Linked DNA regions of Homo sapiens. The protein of the gene in region 4 purifies or fractionates together with the protein of the main gene of each other region. This does not show direct contact. Each region holds a gene or a part of one and is shown on either strand. Other genes may lie near its edges.

The links.
Region 1: the proteins of SERPINA4 (region 4) and FKBP14 purify together in Homo sapiens (affinity purification with mass spectrometry; 4 studies listed by BioGRID and IntAct, with this or other methods). This does not show direct contact.
Region 2: the proteins of SERPINA4 (region 4) and GALNT7 purify together in Homo sapiens (co-immunoprecipitation; one large-scale study listed by IntAct). This does not show direct contact.
Region 3: the proteins of SERPINA4 (region 4) and ITGB4 purify together in Homo sapiens (co-immunoprecipitation; one large-scale study listed by IntAct). This does not show direct contact.
Region 5: the proteins of SERPINA4 (region 4) and COL6A2 purify together in Homo sapiens (co-immunoprecipitation; one large-scale study listed by IntAct). This does not show direct contact.
Region 6: the proteins of SERPINA4 (region 4) and CANX purify together in Homo sapiens (co-immunoprecipitation; 2 studies listed by BioGRID and IntAct, with this or other methods). This does not show direct contact.
Region 7: the proteins of SERPINA4 (region 4) and SIL1 purify together in Homo sapiens (co-immunoprecipitation; one large-scale study listed by IntAct). This does not show direct contact.

What each region holds. Positions count from the first base shown.
Region 1 is NC_000007.14:30,010,087-30,013,394, forward strand, and holds the end of FKBP14 (peptidyl-prolyl cis-trans isomerase FKBP14 precursor), read right to left. Parts: 3' UTR 501-3,308; downstream 1-500. UniProt on the Homo sapiens protein: PPIase which accelerates the folding of proteins during protein synthesis. Has a preference for substrates containing 4-hydroxylproline modifications, including type III collagen. May also target type VI and type X collagens.
Region 2 is NC_000004.12:173,245,311-173,248,810, reverse strand, and holds part of GALNT7 (N-acetylgalactosaminyltransferase 7), read right to left. Parts: intron 832-3,500; coding exon 371-831; intron 1-370. UniProt on the Homo sapiens protein: Glycopeptide transferase involved in O-linked oligosaccharide biosynthesis, which catalyzes the transfer of an N-acetyl-D-galactosamine residue to an already glycosylated peptide.
Region 3 is NC_000017.11:75,738,459-75,741,958, reverse strand, and holds part of ITGB4 (integrin beta-4 isoform 1 precursor), read right to left. Parts: intron 2,288-3,500; coding exon 2,254-2,287; intron 2,080-2,253; coding exon 1,888-2,079; intron 1,602-1,887; coding exon 1,498-1,601; intron 1,167-1,497; coding exon 1,108-1,166; intron 978-1,107; coding exon 954-977; intron 1-953. UniProt on the Homo sapiens protein: Integrin alpha-6/beta-4 is a receptor for laminin. Plays a critical structural role in the hemidesmosome of epithelial cells. Is required for the regulation of keratinocyte polarity and motility.
Region 4 is NC_000014.9:94,560,146-94,564,241, reverse strand, and holds the start of SERPINA4 (kallistatin isoform 2 precursor), read right to left. Parts: upstream 2,801-4,096; 5' UTR 2,748-2,800; exon of another isoform or gene 2,527-2,747; coding exon of another isoform or gene 2,433-2,526; intron 777-2,432; coding exon of another isoform or gene 760-776; coding exon 111-759; intron 1-110. UniProt on the Homo sapiens protein: Inhibits human amidolytic and kininogenase activities of tissue kallikrein.
Region 5 is NC_000021.9:46,108,112-46,111,611, reverse strand, and holds part of COL6A2 (collagen alpha-2(VI) chain isoform 2C2 precursor), read right to left. Parts: intron 2,698-3,500; exon of another isoform or gene 1,516-2,697; intron 1,142-1,515; exon of another isoform or gene 163-1,141; 5' UTR 136-162; coding exon 21-135; exon of another isoform or gene 1-20. UniProt on the Homo sapiens protein: Collagen VI acts as a cell-binding protein.
Region 6 is NC_000005.10:179,722,967-179,726,466, forward strand, and holds part of CANX (calnexin isoform d precursor), read left to right. Parts: coding exon 1-53; intron 54-693; coding exon 694-813; intron 814-1,690; coding exon 1,691-1,817; intron 1,818-3,500. UniProt on the Homo sapiens protein: Calcium-binding protein that interacts with newly synthesized monoglucosylated glycoproteins in the endoplasmic reticulum. It may act in assisting protein assembly and/or in the retention within the ER of unassembled protein subunits.
Region 7 is NC_000005.10:139,188,369-139,191,868, forward strand, and holds part of SIL1 (nucleotide exchange factor SIL1 precursor), read right to left. Parts: intron 1-3,500.

The DNA.
Region 1 (3,308 bases), on a different chromosome or scaffold from region 4:
TAAGGAAAGATCCAAATGGCTAGATTCTTCATCTGAATCAGAAATCATTGTTTCTCGTTATTTTCATGGCAACCCCGCATTTCGTTTAATCAGAGGGTATTTTATAGCACTGATTTACGCAGTAGGCATAAATCAGTGTGTCCACCTGCTACACACGATAAAACCCTAAACCAAAACAACAGTGATAATAACCATCACCCTCCCTCCTCCCCCTCGAAAAACCAAAAACACTTTCTTCAGTGCTAAGAATTAACTATTAACTATCATGCTAAAGGTCAAGACTTAATGCATATTTCAAAAGAATTTAAATCAAACCACAGCTTTTCTTACAAATATACCTATACAGAGCAGATAATCAGAGGCACAAAGTGTCACTGTACCCCTCTCCTTCCACTACCTGTCCATCTTCCTCACTTTTGGTATAAAATTTAGAATAACAGGTAAGAAAATCAGTACAACTGCTGAGGAAATTGGTGTTGAAGAATTTTTCACAAAATCAGTTATCTCCCAAATAAACTTTATTTTGAAAAGAATATCACAATATAGTCATGTAAATTTAAATATGGCACACTGAGCAGTATTGACGCAAATTATATAGTCATGTAACCATGTTTCGGTCAATGTACAATATATATATGATGGTGGCCCCACAGATTATAATGGAGTTGAAAAATTCCTGTCACCTGCTAGGGATGTCTTGATCCTGACCCTGCATAGGCCTAGGCTAGTGTGTTTGTCTTGGTTTTTGACCAAAAAGTTTAAAAATTCAAAATTTAAATAGATAAAAGCTTATATAATAAGGATATAAGGAAAATATTTTTGTACAGCTATGCAATGTGTGTTTTAAGCTACGTTATTACTAGAAGAGTCCAAAAATTGTTTTTAAATAAGTTTCTAAACTAGAAAATTTACAGTAAGCTAAGGTTAGTTTTTTATTATTTCTATAAAAATTATAGAATTTTTTTTTTTGAGACAGAGTCTTGCTCCTCTGTCACCCAGACTAGAGTGCAGTGGTTCGATCTTGGCTCACTGCAACCTCCACCTCCTGGATTCAAGCAATTCTCCTGCCTCAGCCTCTCAATTAGCTGGGACTACACGCATGTGCCACCACACCTGGCTAATTATCGTATTTTTAGTAGAGATGGGGTTTAGCCATGTTGGCCCGGCTGGTCCCAAACTCATGACCTCGAGTGATCCACCCACCTTGGCCTCCCATAATGCTGGGATTATAGGCATAAGGCACCATGCCCAACCAGAAGAAAAACATTTTTTATAAATTTTAGTGTCACCTAAGTGTACGGTGTTTATAAAGTCTACAGTAGTGTACAGTAATGTCCTAGGCCTTTACATTCACTCACCACTGACTCATCCAGAGCAACTTCCAGTTCTGTAAGCTCCGTTAGTAAGTGCCCTATACAGGTATACCATATATATATATATACACACACCATATATATATATACTATATATATATATACCATATATATGGTATATATATATATATAGTATATATATATATATATATTTTTTTTTTTAGATGGGGAGTCACTCTGTCACCCAGGCTGGAGTGCAGTGGTATGATCATGGCTCACTGCAGCCTTGACCTTGCCAGGCTCAGGTGATCCTCCAACCTCAGCTTTTGTACTTTTAGCAGAGACGGGGTTTCGCCATGTTGCCCAGGCTGGTCTTGAGCTTCTGGGCTCAAGCAATCCACCTGCTGAGGCAGCCTCCCAAAGTGCTAGGATTACAGGCGTGAACCACTGCACCTGACCAGATTTTTTACAAAATCTTTTATACCATATTGTTATTGTTGTAGTATCTTTTCTGTGTTTAGATGTTTGAATAAACAGACACTTGCCATTGTGTTACAATTGCCTACATGATTCAGAACAGCAACATGCTGTAGCCTAGGAGCAATAGGCTATATACATGTCCTACATGTGTAGCAGGCTACACTATCTAGGTTTGTGTAAGTACACTCTATGATGTTCCCACAACGATGAAATAACCTAATTAGACATTTCTCAGAGTGCATCTCCATCATTAAGTGAGGTATGACTGTACATGTGAAGTCACAGTTCATGTCTGATTATTCCCACTAATAGAAGAGTACAAAGGTACAGTGAAACCAAAAAAAAGAGCAGATAACTTAAAAACCATAACTTGTGCATATGTTTTCATTTTATACTTGTGTCCAAATGTTTAGATGAGAACTGATACAAATTCACAGGTTTTTAAAAATGCTGCCTGAATAATCAAAACTCTTTTTACTTTTCTTGCCCTACTATAGATAGCATCAGTAATGTTTATACAGAGTAGCACCATCGGACAAACTACTTTCCCTTCTCCCATCATAGAGTATAAGGCTGTCTGTATTATGGCTTAAAACATTAGCAATGACTTAATAGTTTTCAACATACAGCTGATTTTGTTGGAGAAAGGTGTTACAGTATAGTCTTGTTAAGAACTTTATGTTTTACTGAGGAAAATGTCAACATATAATCAGTGAAAGTGGTCTACATATGATGTAATAATTGTTCATAATTCTTTTTAAACAACAAATGGGGGTAAATATGAATGAAAGAAGTAAAACACATCTGGAACCTCGCGTTGTTCAGGGTTTTTGAGGCAATTCAGAGCTAACTGCAAGATTATGCTATGAAACTGAAGCCATTTCTATATCATAGTGAGAATTCTAATGTACCAGAAACAGGCAGAAAGCCATCTTCAGAGAATGAAGACTCAAAGATAAACAACGGCACAGCAAACTGAAGAGAGAATTAGACCCCAGGGAAATTTTCACTTTTCATTAGTAGAGGGCAGTAGAAGACACTGAACTTGGGGACTGAATACTGGTTCTGCAGGTTAGTGCTGACCCTGGGCATAACAGTCAATCTTTTTGAATGACAATTTCCTCGTCTATAAATTAGGTACAGTGAGATCCACCAGCTTGTTTTATGACTCAGAGCCATGAAAAGCGAAGATAATAATGCACTTAATATCATTTTGTACACTATAAAGGGCTACTCTTAGAAAATGAAGATTTGATAACTTTAAAAAAAAGAATTAAAGATAAAAGCCAATTTAAAATAAAATTATATATATTTTTTTCTTTTTTAAAATCCAGGATAGGTATTTATTCAATAGTAGCTGCTGTAGGTCTGCTTCTTTTTTTTTTTTTGAGATGGAGTCTTGCTCTGTCACCCAGGCTGGAGTGCAGTGGCACAATCTTGGCTCACTGCAACCTCCGCCTCCCGGGTTCAAGCAAATCTCCTGTCTCAGCCTCCCGAGTAGCTGGGACTACAGGT
Region 2 (3,500 bases), on a different chromosome or scaffold from region 4:
TGCTATTAAAAAGTTGTCACTTAAACTAAACAAAATATTTAATAGTGTAGTTGACTTACATCCTGGTGCAAGCTCATTTTCTCACTGTGGACTGGTAACAAAAAATTCATTGACCAGTGCCAGTCTGGGGACCATATTTTGAATAGCACTGACGTAGAGGGCCCCAGAATTTTATACAGCCCACCTTCAATACAATGGCATAAATGGAGGGACTGCCTCCTTCTGACCATTTTGCTGTTCAAAGATCCTCTTATTTCCTTGAAATAAAGGCATCAATAATTATTTCTTCATTCTAACAATCTAACTAAACCTAAAAACCTATGAAAACAACAGTTGCCCCATTTTTAGAAAGAAGAGGATGTGTGCTTACTCTTCTTGGCGTAAGTCATTGACGCTGCGGTCCAGTGAGATCATGTCACTTGCCACCATGTTAAATCCAAACTCTTTAATGCTGGCTTGAATTGCTTGTTTGAATTCTGGTCCCAAAACCAATGGCTTGGCTTTCTCTCCAGGGCCACCAACCACTCCAGGAGGCTCAGGTTCTTTGGGTTCAAAGTTACCGAGGATCCCTGGGCGAAGCACAGGATCATGGTAGGTGAATGTCTGAGGCTTAAATGTGAGATACTGCCTCTGCATGATATCTTTCTGGGAATCTCCTCCAGCATGGTGCTCTTGTTCATTTTTGGCCTTGTTTATTCTTCTAATAGACTCTAAGTCCACTTCTACTCCTTCAACATGAGGCCATGGTACCACAGGTTTGAATCTGTCCTCCCCAGGAGCTAGTCCATTGCCGCCTCGGTTGGGCATGGGGTCATTGACATCTCTGTCTTCCTATACAAAAGGGAGGGGATATACAATGAGTACATGAAGGCAAACCACCACAGTAGAGCTCATGAGACCAATTTTCAGGTTTTGAAAAAGGCTGAGGCAACAATAAAACAGTTTGGAATACAAGCGGGCCATTAATCAGGACTTCCCATTAGGAGATATCTTTCAGGGTAGAGAAGAAATACCAAGAAATAGGCTATCTCCTCGCCTTACTATTTCAAAATTAATGAAAGGATGCATTTTTACTTCTCCCTTTACAAATCTACTTCTCTATCAAAGACCTCTTAATAAAGCATATTTTTAAGGGTTAGAGCAAAGAAGTTCTAGAATCTTTGATTAAAACAGATGCTTAATAGGTCATGTTTGTACAGTATGTGGTTTTCCCAGTTGTACCGTGTGTGATAAATATAACCTTTTGTCGGTAGCACAACCATATGGTGGCAGTGGTATTAGATGGATGTCACTGTCAGCAGGCTGGCTCAGTGCCCCAAATGGCAGAGGAACAAGGCGGGGATATGCAGAGTCCCGATTTGGTATTTTTTACTCACTGAGAGTTTATCTGAAATCAGAAGTATAAAAAAAGCTAATATCTGTAACTAAGTCAGCTCGGGCTTTTAAACCACTCCCCCATATCTAGTTTGCCCCATTCCAGAAGCAGCATGGGTCAAAACAGATTCTTTGTACAAGGATATTCATTCACAGTAAAGGGTGCCTCTCTTTTCTGTTTGGGCCGTCTTCATCACCTATGCAGATCTTCCAGTCAGATATCCTGAGTGCTTTTGCTTCTGAGGTATTATTTGTTAAGTTTTTTCCTAAGCCAGTACCATTCTTCGCACAAGACACTGTTTCTCAACATTGGCATCACCTTGATCACTTTAAAAAATGCCAATGTCTGTGTCTTACCCTCAGACATTGTGATTCAATTGGTCTAAGCATTTCGATTTTTAAAAGCACTCCTGGTGATTTAATATACATCTAAGCCTGAGAATCACTGGCTTAATGGGAGGGCTGCTCGTTATAATTAGACAAGGGGATTATAGAGGACACAGCTGGTGAAGAGGCAAGGTGCATACAGAATAAATGCAAAATAGGCTGATGGGTCTGCCACTTCCCTCTACACTAAAACTGTGTGATTCCCCAACAGAGTAGTCATAGAATTAGCACCACCCGACCAAAATCTTTCTACAGGGTTAGAGCTACCTTGAAAAGTAAAGTTTACTAGTTTGCCTTAAAAAATACAAAAGTAAGTCTCTAAGTATGATGTTGATGTGTAGGCTGCTCTCTATTAGTAGTTTATTTAGAGGCAAAAACCTTTATAGAAAGTCAGTTATTTCAGACGTGAAATTAGTAGTCAAGGGATCGCTAAGTCTTGATTTTCAAGAGTTCAAAAAGAAATTTTTAAAAATTTTCTATTTGTTTAGGTAACATAGGCATACAACACAAAATTCAAAACATCCAAAAGGGCATGTAGTGAAAAGCAAGCTTTCCTGCCTTTCCTTCTGCAGGGGTAATTACAGCTACCAACTTCTTGTGAATTTTTCTACAGATGTGATATGCATGTATAAACATACATGTGTATATATAACAAGATAATTTTTTTTGAAGATGGGACATAAATTTTAACTAACTCATTAAAAAAGGAACCTGTAAGATATTACAACTGGTTCAAAAATAAATCCAAAGGACAAACATAAACATCAAGAATATTGCAAAGAATTTACAAATAGATGCAAATCTGGTTAAATTGGTCACTCTGCATAGGGCAATAATCAATTGCATTCCACCAGAACTATTTCCATTTCAATGGGCAAGAGTCCTTTGCATCACTCTCAGTTTTCTGTAATTTCCAGGATTGTAAAATAGGAAAGGGTGAGATAAGCTGGAAAGTTGAGTTAGACAGACATCTTTTGGGAGCATTTCAAAGTTTTTCACAAGTTCCCCCCTAAATAGAAAAGGCAACACAGCCTGATTGTATAAATGTGATGCCTTTCTTCAGGCATGTGTGGTACAGGGTTGAGAAAGCCTCTAGATCAGCCTTCTGATTGTCCCACCTCAGAGACTTAGCTTGAGCCTAACCTGTGAGCCATACTAAGGGTCAGAGTAAGTGAGTAGAAGGCTGTTTTTTTGGAAATCATATTCAGGAAGAACTGAAGATTCTCTTGGGAATTAACTAAGTAAAGTGTAAGGCACGCATGACTGTAAGAGAGAGGTAAGGGGTGATTCTGATGATGGAAAAAGTGTTCGTTTCTCCAATTTATCTCCTGGCTCCTTCCAAAATTATACTTACTTATGTTAGTGTTGTAAGTAAATTAATATAGAGATATCATTATAAAATGTTGTAACAAACTGGTTCCCAGTTGTTGATGCTGAAACAAGTATAACACAAAAAGGAGAAAGACATTCTCCTCCACTTCAGTTTTTCCTTTCACAGGCTCAAGTGAATTGGTAAACAGGGAGGTAAGGAAATGTTATTAAATATAGAAGAGTAGTTGGAACAGCTCATATGATGTCAGCATCCATAGCCATAGCATCCACTAAGTTACCTAATGTTCCATAGAGAAGAAATTGAATATTAGAAGAATATAGAATATGATAGTACATGAAATCAAATTGTGAAATACACGCCATAGTTTAGGTTGACCTATGCTAATACCAAAATTGCAAATTTAAAT
Region 3 (3,500 bases), on a different chromosome or scaffold from region 4:
CCTCATCTGCAAAATGGGAACAGCAGTGATCTCTACCTCACAGGCTTGACGAGAGGGTTGGATAAGATGACCACACACGGAAAGCCCTTAGGACAATGCTTGGCCCGTAGCAGGATAAGAAATGCTGGTCAGCCATTCTTTTTTTTTTTTTTCAAGACGGATTCTCACTCAGTCGCCCAGGCTGGAGTGCAGTGGCGCAATCTCGGCTCACTGCAACCTCTGCCTCCCAGGTTCAAGGGATTCTCCTGCCTCAGCCTCCCAAGTAGCTGGGATTACAGGTGCCCACCAACACACCTGGCTAATTTTTGTATTTTTAGTAGAGGTGGGGTTTCACCATGTTGGCCTGGCTAGTCTTAAACTCCTGACCTGAGGTGATCCACCCGCCTCAGCCTCCCAAAGTGCTGGGATTACAGGTGTGAGCCACCACGCACAGCCAACGGTTCTTACTGATGGTCATGTGCTGAGATTCTAGCTCTTCTGTCCCTGCATCAAGACCCCCTCCTCACTCCCTCTCTCTCCCCATGAAGGGCCAGGACTCGATGTAGGACCTGGGAAAAAAGGTGTGTGACCTGCTGGCCCATCCTCTCGGTAACCTGCCTGGTCCCCAGAGGTGCACCCAAGATCAGGGTCTTGGACACTGGAGCGGATGGAGATGGGTACCTGCTATCGCTGGTACCGGGTGGGGGGCTGGACAGTCACCTATATGAGGGCAGGGACTGGGTTGATTTGCTTTTGCCTGCTCTAGTCCAGGGGCCACTTCATAGCAAGCACTTCACATTAGCATTTGTTGAAGAAATGGTCAAAGGAACGAATGAAGGTCCGAACCTGACGGACACATCTGACCCTCCCTTCCTATGGGATGGAGATGGAGTAGGGACGGACGAGGCAGTGGCTGGGCTGGGGACAGGCGGGCAGGAAGTGGGGGCCCTCTCACCCACGAGTCTTCTACTCACTTTTTCCCGGCATTGGGCTGCTGCCTGTGGGGACAAAGAGGGCGCTGTGAGCTAGATAGCCCTGAAGTGGAGGCCTGATCGGCCTGGGGGCTTCGGCTCCTGGAGTCCCGGTAGGAGCGGCTCCCCCACCCAACCCGGGCACCCCGGGACTCACCGGAACTTGGTCTGCTGGAGCTTGTGTACACCGGAGATCTGCCTGTAGACCTCGTTCAGCTGCCAGGCAAGGGAGGGGCGTGAGGCTGGGCCTAGGCCACCCCGTGGCAAGCCCTCAGGCTGGGGACCCAGGGAGCCAGGCAGCCTCTGTACCCAGAGATCCTCAGGGTTGGCTGGGGCATGCCCCGTGGGGCAGCATCCTGGGCCCAGGCTCTGGCCTTCTGCCCTCTGGAAACAGATCCCAGGATGCCCCCTGCCAGGCACAGGTCCAGAGAGACCCCTCTCCCCTAGTTAATGAATCTCGGTACCACGACCGCATTCGCTCTGCCCTGCCCACCTCACCCGCCCTCATACCCACATCTCCGGCCAGGCCTAGTTCCTGGGTCCTTACGTTCTCCTCCACCTCCTGGCGCAGCTGGGCGCACTCCCGAGTGTCAGGCTTCAGCAGGTTCTCGGTGCAAAGGCGGGCCAGGCGCAAGGACAGCCCGTAGGGCACTAAGGAAAGGCGGTGGGAGGGGGTGAGATGGAGGTGGTCAGCCCCCTGCATGACAGGCACCACAGAGCATCCCTCCAGCAACCATGCTAGGATCAGGGGATGCCTGGCCAGCAGGCCACGCACACCGAGGCATGAGGTTCATAGCACCATCAGCACAGGGCAAAAGGTGGCTGAGCCCTGTGCCTGCACCCCACACCCAGAGAAGAGGCATGCTGTGATCCCAGATCTGGAACAGAGGGCCCGAAGGGCACTGCCCAGAGCTGTGGCGCCCAGCCCCGCCCTCACCCAGCTCTGTGGGGTTGATGCTGGCGGCATGAGTGGCAAAGCCAGGCCGCTGCATGTTGTTGGTGACCTTCCAGCGGACCACGTCACGGCCCTTGAGGTTCCCGCTGCGCAGCATGGGCGTGTCCAAGTGGTCAGAGGCCATCAGGTTCTCCCGCAGCATGTAGTGGTCTTCCTTAAAGCCCACCATGTGACCTGCAGGATGGGGTCCTCAGCACGGCACCCCTCCCTAGACCCGCACAGCCCAACCTCTTCAGGTGGGACCCCAGAGCCTCCAGCCTCTGCCGTTCCAGGTTCAGCTTCCCTCCACCCCAGCTCAGAGAAAGAGCAGTCAGAGCCCCTGCTGCCCCTGCGATGCCAGGCCCATACCTCGGTTGCAGCACGGGAGAAGTGCCAGGCAGGCCTAGGAGACAAGGTGGGTGAGGGTGAGGCCTGAGACAGCTGCCCTGGCCCAGGTAAGCCCTTCCAGCCACCCCGCCCCATGCCAATGGTCAAGAGGGGTGACAGTGCCTCCCCAGACACCAGAATATCCAGGTGGTAGCAGGGTGTAAGCATGGCACACAAGGGCATAGAGGGGGATGGGGGCAGAGGGTTCCCAAAGTTTGCGCCGTGGAACTCTCATCCTGCCGGGTGCTCTGTAAAGGTTCTGTGGTCAGGTTCACTTGGGAAGCACTGAATTCATTCCCCATGCCCCTCTTGCAGGTTAGGCACAGGACTTTATCAAAGCCTCTGAGAAGTCCTGCAGAGAAGAAACTTGTTTCTTTTCTTTTTTTTTTTTTTGAGACAGGGTCTCGCTCTGTTGCCCAGGCTGGAATGCAGTGGCACGATCGCGGCTCACTGCAACCTCTACCTCCCAGGTTCAAGCAATTCTCCTGCCTCAGCCCCCCTAGTAACTGGGATTATAGGCATCCACCTCCATGCCCAGCTAATTTTGTATTTCTAGTAGAGATGGGGTGTCACCATATTGGCCGGGCTTGTCTCCAACTCCTGACCTCAAGTGATCCACCCGCCTTGGCCTCCCAAAGTGCTGGGGTTACAAGTGTGAGCCACTGTAACTTAAATTTAAGAAACTTGTTTCTTAAACCTTCTTTTTTTTTTTCTTTTTGAGTCTCACTCTGTCACCCAGGCTGGAGTGCAGTGGCATAATCATAGCTCACTGTAGCCTCAAACTCCCAGACTCGTGATCCTCCTGCCTCAGCTTTCTGAGTAGCTGGGACTACAGGCACGCGCAGCCGTGCCTAGCTCAAACCTATTTGATCACATAACTCCTTGCCTATGTAATGCACATTAATATCCCACAACACTGGGGGTTACTACGGAGTGTGGTCTGCCGCCTACAATCCCTACTCTGAGCTATGCCATCCTCCACGCTTTCTCTTGTCTGTTCTCCCCAGTGACCGCCAGCTGCGGGCGGGCAGGGCCCTTTCTTCCCTGTTGTGGCTCCCAGGCCTTTTGCACGTGGCTGACCCCAGAGCAGGTGCTCTCAGGGATCTGGCCACTGATGGCTGATGGAGTGGGGGTCCTGGGCGGGCACTAGAGCTGGGGAAGATGTGGGCTCAGCTTGCCTCAGCCCCTTCTGAGGACTGTGCATTTATCACCTGCCTCTCAGCCCCAAT
Region 4 (4,096 bases):
ACACAACGTTTTTACTTACATTTTTGTAAAAATATATTTAACCAGTCAACAAATTAGTGGGTTGGAGGCGGTGGTGTGGATTTAGCATATACCAATGATCTGACTCTCACCTTTGAAGTAAATGTAATTCACCAGCACCATCAAGACGTCCTTCTTGAGCTCACTGACCAAATCCACAATCTTCCCTCGAGTTTCCTTCTTGACGTGGTCGTTGATAAGCTGGATTGTGCCCACAGTGTCGTAGAAGTTGGTGTGGAAGAGTTTAGCCTCATAGACGGCCATGGTGTCATTCAGGAATTTTGCAAGGAACTTCAGGTTGTGGCTCAGGAACAGAGCACTGCCCACGCGTGTTTCCAGCCCATGGCCGGGGAGGTTGAGAGTGTGCAGGAGGTGCTGGAAGCCCCTATGGACATCGGACTCAGACAGCTCGGTGAGGTTGAAGCCCAGGCCCTCAAGGATCTGGCTGCGGCTGTGTGAGCAGGCCCCCAGGGAAAGCATGGCGTAGGCCGCCGAGATGCTCAGCGGGGAGAAAAAGATGTTCTTCCCCGGGGTCTCCGAAGCGATCAGGTAGTAGAAGCGGAAGGCAAAGTCAGCATTGGCAGGGGCTATCTTGAGGCTGGGGGAGCCCTCACCTGTCTCCAGAATCTGCTGGTGGGAGCTGTTACTGCAACTCTCACCATCATGCTCAACGTGCAGCTGGCCATGAGAAAGGGCCAGTAGTCCAACCAGCAGGAGGAGCAGGTAGTCGATAAGATGCATCCTCTGCACTCTCAGGCCTATGGGAGGGAAGAGAATGCCCAGGAAATTCCCCCAGAAGAACACCTGGCCCTACTGAGAAGGCTGGCAGTGGGCCAGCACCCGGAGATCGTGAGTGACACCCTCAACTCCTGCAGATGGGCTTGTGAAAGGCAATGTAACACCCACCACCTTCCACATGTATGGTGACAGCAACACTATTGGATGGCAATGTTTTAGACTTACAAGGCACACTCCTTGTGTCCATCATGTCATTGTGTTTCCCACCTGTGTGAGCTCTGCACAGCACTAGACTCCATTCTCACCCAACAGAGCAGGAAATGAAGACTCCCAAAGTGACTCACCCAAGTCACCTACCTAGCACATATCCCAGCCAGAACCCACATCCCCAGACTCAGGTGCTGCTTCTCCCACACTTGTCTTTCAGATGAGTTGATTTCATTAGTGCAGTGATTTTGCATGGAGGATGGCTATCCTCAGAGTTTATTTTAGGGTCTGTTCCACAAACATCTGTGGAGTGCTTTATATGGTTTACAAACCACTTTCAGCCATTTAGTTTGACCCTCCCACCCCTGTAGAGGTCAGTAGAACTGGTCTTTGTATTGTTACCCCGTACAGACAAGGACATGGATGTTTAATAAGTGACCTGCCCAAAGTTGTGGGGATAGAATTGGTACCCGTTTCATAATGAACATCTGTCCAAGAAAGGATACTCCAGTTTCTCCCCCAAATCTGCTCCTGCCCCATCAAATGGTCCCACCAGTATCCGGTTGTCAGGCCAAAAAGCTTCTAGGCTTCTATCCACCCAAAATCCATTTAATCCACTTCCATGACCTGCAGGGTTGGGTTTTTTTTGTTTGTTTGGTTGTTTGTTTGTTTGTTTGAGACAGGGTCTCACTCTGTCACCCAAGCTGGAGTGCAGTGGTGTAATCATGGCTCACTGCAGCCTTGACTTCCTGAGCTCAGGTGATCCTCCCACTTCACCCTTCCAAGTAGCTGGAACTACAGGCATGCACCCTTCCAAGTAGCTGGAACTACAGGCATGCACAGCCACACCCAGCTAATTTTTTATAGAGTTGGGGTCTCACCATGCTGCCCAAGCTGGTCTCCAACTCCTAGACTCTCCTGTAGGTTCTTCAGCCTCTCGCCCCCTCTTTTGCTATGATCCTCAACCAGGGCTCAGAAAACTTTTTCTGCAAAGCGCCAGATAGTAATATCTGTGGTTTTGCAGACCACACAGTCTCTGCTGCCACTACCCAACTCTGCTGTGGCAGCTGGAAACAGCCACAGACCGGACATGCATGAAGAGGCGTGGCTGTGTTTCAGTGAAACTTCACTTACGGACACTGAAATGTGAATTTCATATTATTTTCCTGTGTCACAAAATGTTGTTCTTCTATTGATTTTTCATAGCTTTATATATTTATCTTTTATACTTATCACTTATATTTTATATTTATATTTTACATCTTGCATTCTTAGCTCATGGGCGGTGGGCCGGATTTGACCTACAAGCTGTGGTTTGTTGACCCCTGACCTAGACCCTTGCAGAAAGCTTCCTAGTCTTTCTGCTCTCTGTTCTCCACTCAGCAGTTGGAGGGATCATTTAGAAACATACATAGGACCGCATCACTCACAGACACACCTCCCCTCCGGCATGAGCTCCCCAAGATCACCTGGATTGGCAGCCAGAAGACCTTGGCCCTCAGTCAGTGCCGCCCTGTACCAGCTGTGTGTCCCTGGGGGAGGCTTTTCTGGGTCTCCGGGCATAGTCACCCACCAGTGCCCATGGACCCTAAGTCGGGGCCTTTCTAGCCTGAGTATTTCTCACCTCTAGCAAGAGTGACAAAGTGTCCCAGCTTGCCTGGGACTTTCCTGGTTTTAGCACTGAAAATATATCCCAGAAGAATTATCAGTCTTGGGCAAAGTGGAACAGTTGGTCACCCTCCCTCTAGAGTCTCTCGTCTCCATTGTCTCAGGGGGTTACTCACGGCACAGTCTGTCCTGGAGTGGACCCCCTGGGTGGCTGTCTCAGCTCTGTCTTATCAAGCCCAGGAGGACTGGTCAAACCAGGCCTTCTCAGTACCACCCACTCTCTCCCGACCAGGTAATTATTAACAAACAGGCTACGGGTGCAGCATTGCCTCAACAAGGAAAACTCACCAGAAGTTGGTTCACCCCCTCCCAAGAAGACACCCCACTTCCCACCTGGGGAACCCCAAGAGGGTTCACTTCTTCATGTTTGTGCAGTGCATGGAGGTTCGCCTGGCCCTTGCTGCTCCCCGAGGGCCCGGGGAACCACTTGGAAAATCTGGTCTCCAACCAGCCCCTCACTAGCTGTGTGAAGTTGAGCTCATTTACTCCCTCTCTGAGCTTCAGTCGCCCACCTCCCTCCTACAACATGAGGGGCTGGATCAGACAGGGGGCAGCAAGCTCCAGCGCCGCCTTCCTAGATCAGGTAAGGAAGACTCCATGGTGCCACGGTGGGGAATGGTGGGGATGTGTGGAAGTGAGAGAGCCAGCTCTCTACAGGCCAGGCAAGACCCACCTGTGGGCAGGGCCTCACAGCAGGGCCTCCAGTTTGCAATCCTGGACTCTGTGATTTCTGAGGATAGAGTCCACTGAGATCTCATAGGTCAGACCATAAGGAGAGTACATCCCAGGGCAAGGGTGGCATGGGGTGGGACCAGGAACCTCCTTGGGCCAGGTATTCAATTTGCATTTTTCTTCTTTAACCATGGAATTGAACTTGTTCTCTCCCCAGTAATCAGTGAACCCCTGCACCCTTGCACCCTTGCACCCTCCTGGGGCAGCCATTTCTCAAGCTATGTGGGGAAGGACTGCAGGGAGCAATGTGGCCCTGGGTGCCCTGACTGAGATGACCTTGACCATTCAGGCATCCTCTAGCAGACTTTCTGGATGTGTTTCCAAGTCGTTGGGCCTTAAGGTAAGTGAAATATACACCACTGAGCAGCACAGTGGGCTGGGAGCCCTGAGCGATGTAGACATGGGGATGGCAGAGCAGGCACAAGCACAGCCCTGGAGCCAGCTGGCCTGAGGTCCAAAATGGGTCAACACCAGGACAAGAGAGGAAGCTAGCAGGTCAGGCAAAGTGAGAGCTACTGTCTCAGTGGATTCTCGCTTTCCCTCACTCATCTCTCTCTTTCCCTTGCCTATACACTCTAGGTATACTAAGCTTGGCCCATTTTACACATGAGAAAATGTAAGCCCGGAGACATTGTTAGCTCAGATTCCAGAGTCAGGGTCTGCTCCGTGGCCACTGAACATGAAGCCCATATTCCTTCCCAGCATCTGCTGCTTCTCCACTTGGACAGACTTT
Region 5 (3,500 bases), on a different chromosome or scaffold from region 4:
CGGCCCCCGACCCCTGGCACCTGGGCAGTTGTTGTTTCTCTCGGTAGTGTCCGGCGAGATGACCTCCTGCTGCTGGGCCTGGATGGCCCCCAGGATTCCCCAGAGCAGGAGCACGGAGCAGGTGCCCTGGAGCATCTTGGCAGCACCTGTGGCCCTGAAGTCCTGCAACAGGGGTGGGGGTCGCTCAGACACCCCCAGTGCCTCTCCCCTGGCACCCTCCCCCATGGCAGGCGCACGCACAGCAGGTCAGCGGGATTGGGGGCACTGCCCTCAGTCTTCAAGGAAGCGGGGTCTGCGCCCAGCACACACCGTCACCAGCATCTGGACTGGGGGGCTTGCGCCCTCTTGCCCCACCCTGGGTGGGGTCACAGATGTTTAGTGGGTGCCTCTGGGCTCAGTTTTGGGTGGGATTTGGATGGTTGAGGCCCTTCCATGTCCTCCAGGGCTGGGTGGAGTGGGTAGCTGGGCGCGTCGGCATGGAAGGGAATGGAGCACCACTGTCTGGCGCCCCCCACTGCCTGGGGCTGCCCTGGAAACAGTGCAGAGGGGAGGGCGGGAGAGAGATCCCAGCTTCCCCAGACCGGCTCCCCTGCAGAGCTAGGCACTCTCTCTCCAGCCTGGCTCCATTCCCTTTAAACAGGACTTTGATAAGGAGGGAGGGAGGACTCTGTCAAGTGTAGGGACACAGCCGTCATTAGCCTGGCTTTCCTTTCTGTTGGGTGCCAGGACCCTGGGGCAAACAGATCCAGCCCTTGAACGTCCATCCTCCCTGATGCCCTGTGGCTTGGCCTAAGCTCCAGCTCCAGGAGGCCATCAGGACGGGCCTCACTGTGCTGCTGGCTCCGCAGAGTGGGGCTGGCAGCAGCCGGGCAGCTGGGCAGAAAGGGCACCGGGCCTGGTTCAGAGCGTGCAGTTCCAGGGGTAATGCAGGGATTGGAGTGCCGCCCTCTCCTCGGTGCAGATGGGAGGAGTGTCCAAGCACCGGGACTAGGGGAGGCGCTGCCAGGAGAGGGCCCTGAAGGGTTGCTGTGATTTTGCGGCGTCTGGAGTGGATGAGGTGACCCAGGCCAGACCTGCTCAGCCTGGGGCCCAGGGAGGAATGAAGTCCGTTCCCAAAGGTGCCAGCTCAGGCAGTTTGTGGGTGAGTTTCACAGCTTCAAGGACAAGCACTTCATGCTATTTAACTTGTTTTAGAACATAAAAAGATAAACTTTTTCCCAATTCATTTTTAAATGTTGCATAACCTGTGACCAAAGCTTGATAAAAAAAAAAGTCCCTAAAAGTAACTCTACAGATAAATATCACTATAAATATTACTGATGGCAGCGGCAGCCCATCTGGTGTGGCCGCTGCCATCACACTGGCTGCTCAGGGAGGGCCCATGGAAGAGGCAGACAGGCCCCCAACCCCGCAGACTGCCTCCCTGGGGGCCGCTGCCATGGGGCCGGGCCGGGTGGTGTGCTGGGTGAAGGGGAGCTCACGGCGGTGTTGCCCCTGTCTGGGATGCTGGCCCAGGTCTGGAGACCCTGCCCCAGGCTGCGAGAGGACATGGCCAGGTACCATGCTCCACGGAGCCAGCAGGAGCCGGGGATAAGTGGGATCCCTGCCCCTTGCAGTTTGGCGAGGTGAGAGTTCCCCAGGTACAACTGCCCAAGTCGTGGCTGTGGATCTGGGCCTTCTGCTCCATGGAGGAGGCAGGAGCCAGCCCCCACTCCTGGTGCAGTTTCAGCTGCCCCAACTGGGGCTGCTGACCCAGGCATCGCTGCACTCTTGGGGAGCCAGGGAAGGCCCCTCTTTCCCTTGTAGGCCTGGAGGTGCCTGTTCCCGCTGCCCAGCTTCTTCCCGCTCCCACCACCCACTCCAATCTCAGAGCAGAGTTGGGGCTGAGCCTGGGCACTGTCACAGCCTGGCCGGGTGGGTGCATGCTTGTGGCAGTGCTGACATGCCAGCCCCCTGCTGACTTGGCCCCCTCCAAACTGTGGGCACTGAGAAGTGCAGGAGGGGAGGCTTGGGGGGGTGCTGAGGGTGGCTGGGCACCGGTGCCCCTTGGTACCAGCAGCCTGGGCACCATGGATGGCTGCAGGAGGCAGATAGGCTCCTGGGCAGAAGAGGATGGGTCCCCAGTGAAGCCCCACCTTCAGGCTGGGGCAGGCCTGAAGCCTGGGGGCCGGGTTGCCCGTCCTACGGACCAGAGGGGAACTCAAGGTGCTTTCTTCTGGGCCTGCACATGGCTGCACATGGACCAATCAGCATGCACTTCCCCTCTCTGAGGCCTTTAAAAGCCCCAGGCTCAGTCAGAGCAGGGCAGAGCATGGCACGACCAGCTGCAGAGAGGAGGTGCTCTCTCTGCTGAGAGCTTCAGGACCTGAAGGGATGTCAGGACGACCAGCTGCAGAGAGGAGCTACCCTCTCCAGGGCTTTCTCTCTGCTGAGAGCTGAACACTAGTTGAGATGCCCTGTTTGCAGAGAGGAGACACGCTCTCGAGGGCCTCCTCTCTGCTAAGAGCTGCAGAGACAATGGGATGACCTGCCTGCAGAGAGGAGCCACCCACTCCAGGGCCTTCTCTCTGCTGAGAGCTGAACATTTGACAAGACAACCCGCCGACAAGACAACCCGCCTACAGAGAGGGGCTGCCCCCTGCGGGTCTCCTGTGAGCTCCCCTAACACTCAATAAAGCTTCTCTGTCTTGCACACCCTCCACTTGTCTGTGTACCTCATTCTTCCTGGACACAGGACAAGAACTTGGGCAAAGGCGCCACTGGCCATAGAGGTTTCAGGCCAGAAAAGTGACACCCTAAAAATCCCATAACATTATCACAAAAATTCTAGCCAATATTAAAAACTAAAATCCAATAGCATATTAAGGACCACTATACCAGAACTATAATATGAAGTTAAAGTACAGTGTTGCCACAAACACTAGGGAATACATTAATGTAAGTCACATTAACATAAAATGGGAAAAAATATGCAATTGCTTCAATAGATCCCTGAAACATCAATTTCTAACTAAGAAACAACAACAGCCAGACAAGGTAAAACCTAGTAAGAAATTTAGGAGTAGAATTAACTCTATAAAGGATATACATTTCAAATCAAGAGCTCACATCATATTTTACACAAAAAGCTAAAATAGTGGTTCTTATCTTTGTGGTCATGGACCCTTTTAAGAGTCTACACAATTTCACCTTACACAAATGCATAGATGCTCATATACAGAAATCATGTCCAGGAATTCAGGGATTCCATTCGTAGATCTAACCCTGGGTTAAAAAATCCTGCATTAGAAGAATGCTTACTACAGTACAAAAAAAATGGGGTGGGGGCAAACAGTGCAGATCTTACGCTACCATTCAGTGTTGTGTTGGAAGCCAATGCAATAAGACAGTAAAAATAAAAGTATAACTGTTGGAAAAGAAGAGACAAAACTGTCCTTATTAAAGATAGGATTGTCTACCCAGAAAATCATCTGAACAAAGTTTTTTTAAAAAAGAGAAAA
Region 6 (3,500 bases), on a different chromosome or scaffold from region 4:
ATTGGGCCAATGATGGATGGGGCCTGAAGAAAGCTGCTGATGGGGCTGCTGAGGTTCGTGTTTGCTGCTTGTGCATTTGTGTCTGTTATTGTAAGGAGCTGTTATTTTGTGAAAGTCTGTGTTAAGGTTTTTTTTCTTCATTTGGCAATATTGGCATAAAAAGTATAACCATATGCCTGCAAAAGACACAATATTGGGTTTTGGGGCATGATTTCATTAGTCTAATGTAGTGGCTTTAGAGTCTGTTTGTGTTCAGGGTTTTTTTTTTATTATTTGTCTGGGTATATATTTCGAAATTTGTCATTTAGGCTATATTTTAATACACTCTTATATGTTGAATCTCGGTTTACACTACATACAGAATTTTCAAACAACTGGTCATGTGGCCGATTTAAGAATTGGAGAGCCAGGGATACTGAGATAAGAAATTCACTGGATCCTGAGGTTAAGGGAGCCTTTTGCAGGTGATGTAGAAGCCAGCTTTTGCACCTATGAGAGTGAAATCATCTTGATTATAAGGAGAGCAAGAGGATGGAGGCTTTCTCTAATTTCTTTTTTACATTTTATGAGCATTTTCTCTGAAAAAGAAGGTCCTGCGTAGTGCCATGCCATAACTGAACTGCAGAAAAACAGCACGGCCTATGTTTGGTGTCAAAAGCTGGAACTTTCAATCAGCCCTGTCTTGTTTTTCAGCCAGGCGTTGTGGGGCAGATGATCGAGGCAGCTGAAGAGCGCCCGTGGCTGTGGGTAGTCTATATTCTAACTGTAGCCCTTCCTGTGTTCCTGGTTATCCTCTTCTGCTGTTCTGGAAAGGTAGGAAGTTTTTTTTTTTAGAATCAATTTTAGAGACATCACTCTAGTGATTATTAAAAATAACTAAGATATGTTGCCTGAGGTTTTCTTTGTAGTGGCTCAGTAATGACCAAGCCATGTTTGGTGTTGACTTCAGAAACCTTACTTACTGTTCCTCAGTGGCCGTTTATTGTGCCCAGATGGGAGCAGGATTTATAGCCCCTTGGTTGCTATTATTATTTATCCTAATCTGTTACTCTCCATAGTGTTCGGCAGCAACTTTCTAAAAAAAAACAATAAACTTAGATACCAAACTAGCCACTTGGGCAATAATCAGCTTTGCCTGCTGGCATAGCTATTTCTATTCTTTGTAATTCAGTCTTTGATTCCTCATTATCCATTCTGCCTTCACCTTCCCCACTCTCAAAACAGTATGTTGGGGTACCACAGCCTTATTGTTAGTTTTTCTTGTTTAGCCTTTTTTTTTTTGCATGCTATCATAAAAAAAGAAAGTCTTATTTTGGACTCTACTTCTGCTAAATGAGGATTATGCTTCATCTGGCATTCATAGCACTTTGTAACTGGATCCCAAGTTCCTTTTCCAGCCTCAGCCTCTGCCACTATTCTGTGTATCGGTGCCTCAGTCACCTTGACTTTTTTGACCTTTATTTTCCTGCCTGGCCCTTTTGTTTTTATTGTTCTACCTTGAAACACACAAGCACATGTGCATACACACACGTACATACACGCTCTTCAGGGTAGGAATTACATCCTATTCGTTTCTGTATATCTATCCCTGTATACAGCCTGGAACAGAACTTTGCCTGTAGGCATTCAGGAATTATATAACATAATACATGAACATGTAAACAAAATTGTACTTTGGGGAACATTTCAGAAACAGACCAGTGGTATGGAGTATAAGAAAACTGATGCACCTCAACCGGATGTGAAGGAAGAGGAAGAAGAGAAGGAAGAGGAAAAGGACAAGGGAGATGAGGAGGAGGAAGGAGAAGAGAAACTTGGTAAGAAACAGAGTCCAGAAAATCTGCTTTAAGCCAAGACCCTACGATGTTGTTAAACCTTTACAGTCAAGTTAAGGATTGTTTTTAGCCAGGCGTGGTGGCTCAAGCCTGTAATCCTAGCACTTTGGGAGGTTGAAGCAGGAAAATCACTTGAGCCCAGGAGTTTAAGGCTGTAGTCAGCCAGGATAGTGCCACTGCACTCCAGCTGAGCAACAGAGTGAGACCCTGTCTCTCTCTCTCTCTCTTTTTTATTTTTTAAGACAAGGTCCCACTCTGTCACTCAGGTTGGAGTACAGTGGCACAGTCACAGTTCACTGCAGCCTTGACCTTATAGGTTCAAGTGATCCTCCTACCTCAGCACCCCTCCAAGTAGCTGGGACCACAGGCATGCGCTACCATGCTCAGCTGTTTGTTTGTTTGTTTGTTTATTGATTTATTTATTTGATATGGTCTGGCCCTGTTGCCCAGGCTGGAGTGCAGTGGTGTGATCTCGGTTCACTGCAGCCTTTGCCTCCCAGATTCAAGCGATTCTCCCACCTGGGCCTCCCAAAGTGTTGGGATTACAGGCGTGAGCCACCAGACCCAGCGAGATCCTGTCTCTTAAAAAAAAATTGTTGGCCAGGTGCGGTGGCTCACGCCTGTAATTCCAGCACTTTGGGGGGCCGAAGCAGGCAGATCACGAGGTCAGGAGGTCGAGACCATCCTGGCTAACATGGTGAAACCCCATCTCTACTAAAAATACAAAAATTAGCCGGGCATGGTGGCAGGTGCCTGTAGTCCCAGCTACTCAGGAGGCTGAGGCAGGAGAATGGCGTGAACCTGGGAAGGCAGAGCTTACAGTGAGCCGAGATTGGGCCACTGCACTCCAGCCTGGGTGACAGAGCAAGACTCTGTCTCAAAAAAAAAAAAAAAAAAAAAATTGTTGGCCAGGCATGGTGGCTCACGCCTGTAATCCCAGCACTTTGGGAGGCCGAGGTGGGTGGATCACGAGGTCAAGAGATCAAGACCATCCTGGCCAACACAGTGAAGCCCCGTCTCTACTTAAAATAAAAAAGTTAGCCAGGCATGGTGGCGGGCGCCTGTAGTCCCACCTATTCGGGAGGCTGAAGCAGGAGAATCACTTGAACCCGGAAGGCAGAGGTTGCAGTGAGCCGAGATTGCGCCACTGCACTCCAGCCTGGCGACAGAGCGAGACTGAGTCTCAAAAAAAAAAAAAAATTGTTGGCCGAGCAAGGTGGCTCACGCCTATAATCCCAGCACTTTGGGAGGCCAAGGTGGGTGGATCACCTGAGGTCAGGAGTTCGAGATCAGCCTCGCCAACATGGTGAAACCCCGTTTCACTAAAAATACAAAAATTAGCCAGGCGTGGTGGTGGGCACCTGTAATCCCGGCTACTCCGGAGGCTGAGGTAGGAGATCCACTTGAACCTGGAGGCAGAGGTTGCAGTGAGCCGAGATCATGCCATTGCACTCCAACCTGGGTGACAAGCAAAGTCGATCTCAAAAAAAATAGTGGCCGGGCGCGATGGCTCACGCCTGTAATCCCAGCACTTTGGGAGGCCACCGAGGAGATCATGAGGTCAGGAGATCGAGACCATCCTGGCTAACACGGTGAAACCCCGTCTCTACTAAAAATAAAAAAAGTTAGCCGGGCATGGTGGCAGGCGCCTGTAGTCCCAGCTAT
Region 7 (3,500 bases), on a different chromosome or scaffold from region 4:
ATGTACTAATTCCTATTGTTTACCAATTCAGATTGGCCTTCCCTCCAAATAGTGAGTTTTTTTTACCTTATTTGTTTCATACAGAGAAGTGAGGCATGGTCTATAGTCATAGTGCTTGGATTTTTTTAAAAACTCAACTTGAGATCAAAATAATGGGATTGGCTCCAGGGGCTTTTTCCTCACTCCCTTGCTACATGGAACCAGTTGTACATCTCAAAGAGAGAGACAGTCAACTTGAGCACAAAATCTGGGTCAGTGTATGTGACTGTGCCTCCGTGACTTTGCACAAGGACCAGAAATGAGCATACAAATCAGAGGAAAGCAGTGACAAAAGTCAACATTCCCTTGATGAGCTAATTGCTTCATGTCTGGCTGAAGAGCAGAAAGCAAGAGATAAGGAGAACATACTATCTGAGGGACCAGGCAGGCTCTGGACTAGCCAGCCCTACCCCAATAAAATCCCCTCATCAGACACTGCCCCCGAAACAAGGCCTGCTGGCTTGAGCACCTGACAAGAGAGAACCTGAGAAAGATAAGCACTAAGCTGAGTAAGGAAGGAGATGGCAGAGAAGCAGCAAAGTTCCTTGCTACTCACAACTTTTAGTTATTCAGCATGAAATACCTATAACTATTGGTATAAATAATATGTAATACAAACCAACTAAGACAACAATGAGGTGATGGTTAAGATAAAACTTGCTTGGTCAGCATAACCTATCCTGAAACTACGACGTGGCTCAGAAACTGGAAACTATTGTTGTCAATAATGATGACAACACAGAGCATTTACATCAGGGGTCCCAAACCCCCGATACTGGTCTGTAGCCTATCAGAAACCCATCCAAGGAGGTGAGCAGCAAGTGAGTGAGCAAAGCTTCATCTGTATTTACAGCTGCTCCCCAACGCTTGCATTAACGCCTGAGCACCGCCTCCTGTCAGATCAGTGGCAGCATTAGATTCTCATAGGAGCACAAACTCTATTGTGAACTGTGCATGCAAGGGATCTAGGTTGAACACTCCTTATGAGAATCTAATGCCTGATGATCTGTCACTGTCTCCCATCACCCCCAGATGGGACCGTCTAGTTGCAGGAAAACAAGCTCAGGGCTCCCACTAAGTCTACATTATGGTGAGTTGTATATTTCATTACATACTATAATGTAATAATAATAGAAATAGGTTGGGCATGATGCCCATAATCCCAGCATTTTGGGAGGTCCAGGCGGGTGGATCACCTGAGGTCAGGAGTTCAAGACCAGCCTGGTCAACATGGTGAAACCTCATCTCTACTAAAAATACAAAAATTAGCGGGTGTGGTGGTACACATCTGTAATCTCAGCTACTCAGGAAGCTGAGGCAGGAGAATTGCTTGAACCTGGGAAGCAGAGGTTGCAGTGAGCCAAGACTGTGCCACTGAACTCCAGCCTGGGTGATGGAGTGAGACTCTGTCTCAAAAATAATAATAACAGAAATAAAGTACACAATAAATATAATGTGCTTGAATCATCCCCAAACCATCCCCCACATCCCCCAGTCCATGGAAAAATAGTCTTCCATGAAACTAGTCCCTAGTGCCAAAAAGGTTGGGGACTGCTGTTTTACATTGTGCCAGAGGAAGCACCATATCTATTCTCTGAATTCTTAAGATAGCTATAAAAATACATATTACTATTCCCATTCAACAGATCATAAAACTAAGGCTTAGAGAAAATAAGTAACTTACAATCTGACAACTAGTAAGTAGATATCAGAACGTAAATACAAGTGAGTCTGACTCCAAAGTGTGTTTAAACCACTCTGAAATACACTCATTCCTTCTCTCTTTCTCTTAGAGATGTCTTGAAGGTTTGCTTGGATCACCAGATAAGGTCCACTGTTACATCTGGCCTCATTCTTTACAGAAACACACAAGTCTGGCCTGAGCACTATTTGTTTCTAACACGGAGGAAGGCTTCAAATTCATTTCCTCTGAGGTAAGAGCAAGAGAAACACATTTCGACATGAGTAGGAGGAAAAACAGCACGACAGCAAAAATCTTCAACCATGAGGGTATAAGATCATGTACAAGGCAGTAAGTGGAGACAGGGCCTCCTCCTTCCCAGGAGACTTTTAACTGCAAAAGCATCCTGCATCTTTACAATGCTTTAAACAATTCTAACAACTTCTATGGCCACCCTTTGTAAGACCCCTAGCCTGTGTCCCAGCTCTAACACTAGAGTCCCACTATTATGTGGGTGGCCTAAAAAAGATCCTACCATTACGTGGCCCACTTCACTTCTCTGGGGCTCAGTTTTTGTCGTCAGAAAAATAAAAACCTATCAAATGCAAAATGGAGGCATTGGGCAGTAACAGAACTAGAAGTGTATCTCCTGACTCTTCACTCATCCACAGTACCACAAACAGCCAGCCCTGATGTTTGCAAGGAAATAAAGATCTCTATAATATCTTCCAGCCCAAAACACAATCATTTTAGACTTTAGCAGCTGGGTCCAAGGATGGAGACTTAACTTCAAGAATACAGTCAAACCCAACTCCCCATGAGTATGAGATGGGGTGTGGGGAAAAACAAGAAGCAACCTTAGGCCAGAGACAGTGGCTCACACCTGTAATCCCAGCACTTTGGGAGACCGGGGTGAGCAGATTACCTGATGTCAGGAGTTCAAGACCAGCCTGGCCAACATGGTAAAACCCCATCTCTACTGCAAATACAAAAATTAGCCGGCCATGGTGGCAAGCACCTGTAATCCCAGCTGCTTAGGAGGCTGAGGCACAAGAATCACTTGAACCTGGGAGGCAGAGGTTGCAGTGAGCCAAGATCACACTCACACCTGGGTGACAGTGAGACTCTGTCTCAAAAAAAAAAAAAAAAAAAAAAAAGCATCCTTAAATACTTACTTACAACTTACTTATGAGCTGGCCCCTTAAGCTTCCAATACACACTATCCACAGCACTCAAAGCATGGCCAATCAATGTTGTCTGTATCGATTGTCCTACTTTATGTTATTCCACTGGGCTGAAGCCTGCTAGTTTTCTAGTTTGGTCAGATGGCTGCTTTCCCCTTGGGAGCCTCACAAAAATGAGACTATCCCCAGAGGTAAAGAAATGTCCATTTAAAAGCCCACTGGTATAGCTGGGCATGGTGGCTCACACTTGTAATCCCAGTGCTCTAGAAGGCCAAGGTAGGGCATCACTTGAGGCCAGGAATTTAAGATCAGCCTGGGCAATGTTGCAAGCAAGACCCTGTCTCTTTAAAAAAAAAAAAAAAAATTAAATTAGCCAGGCATGGTGGTGCACACCCATGGTCCTAGCTACTTGGGAGGCTGAGGTGGGAGGATCACTTGAGCCCAGGAGTTGGAGGTTGCAATGAGCTATGATCACACCACTATACTCCAGCGTGGGCAACAGAGTGAGACCCTCTTAAAAAGGGCCAGGCACAGTGGCTCACGCCTGTAATCCCAGCACTTTGGAAGGCCGAGGCCGGCAGATCTCGAGGCCAGGA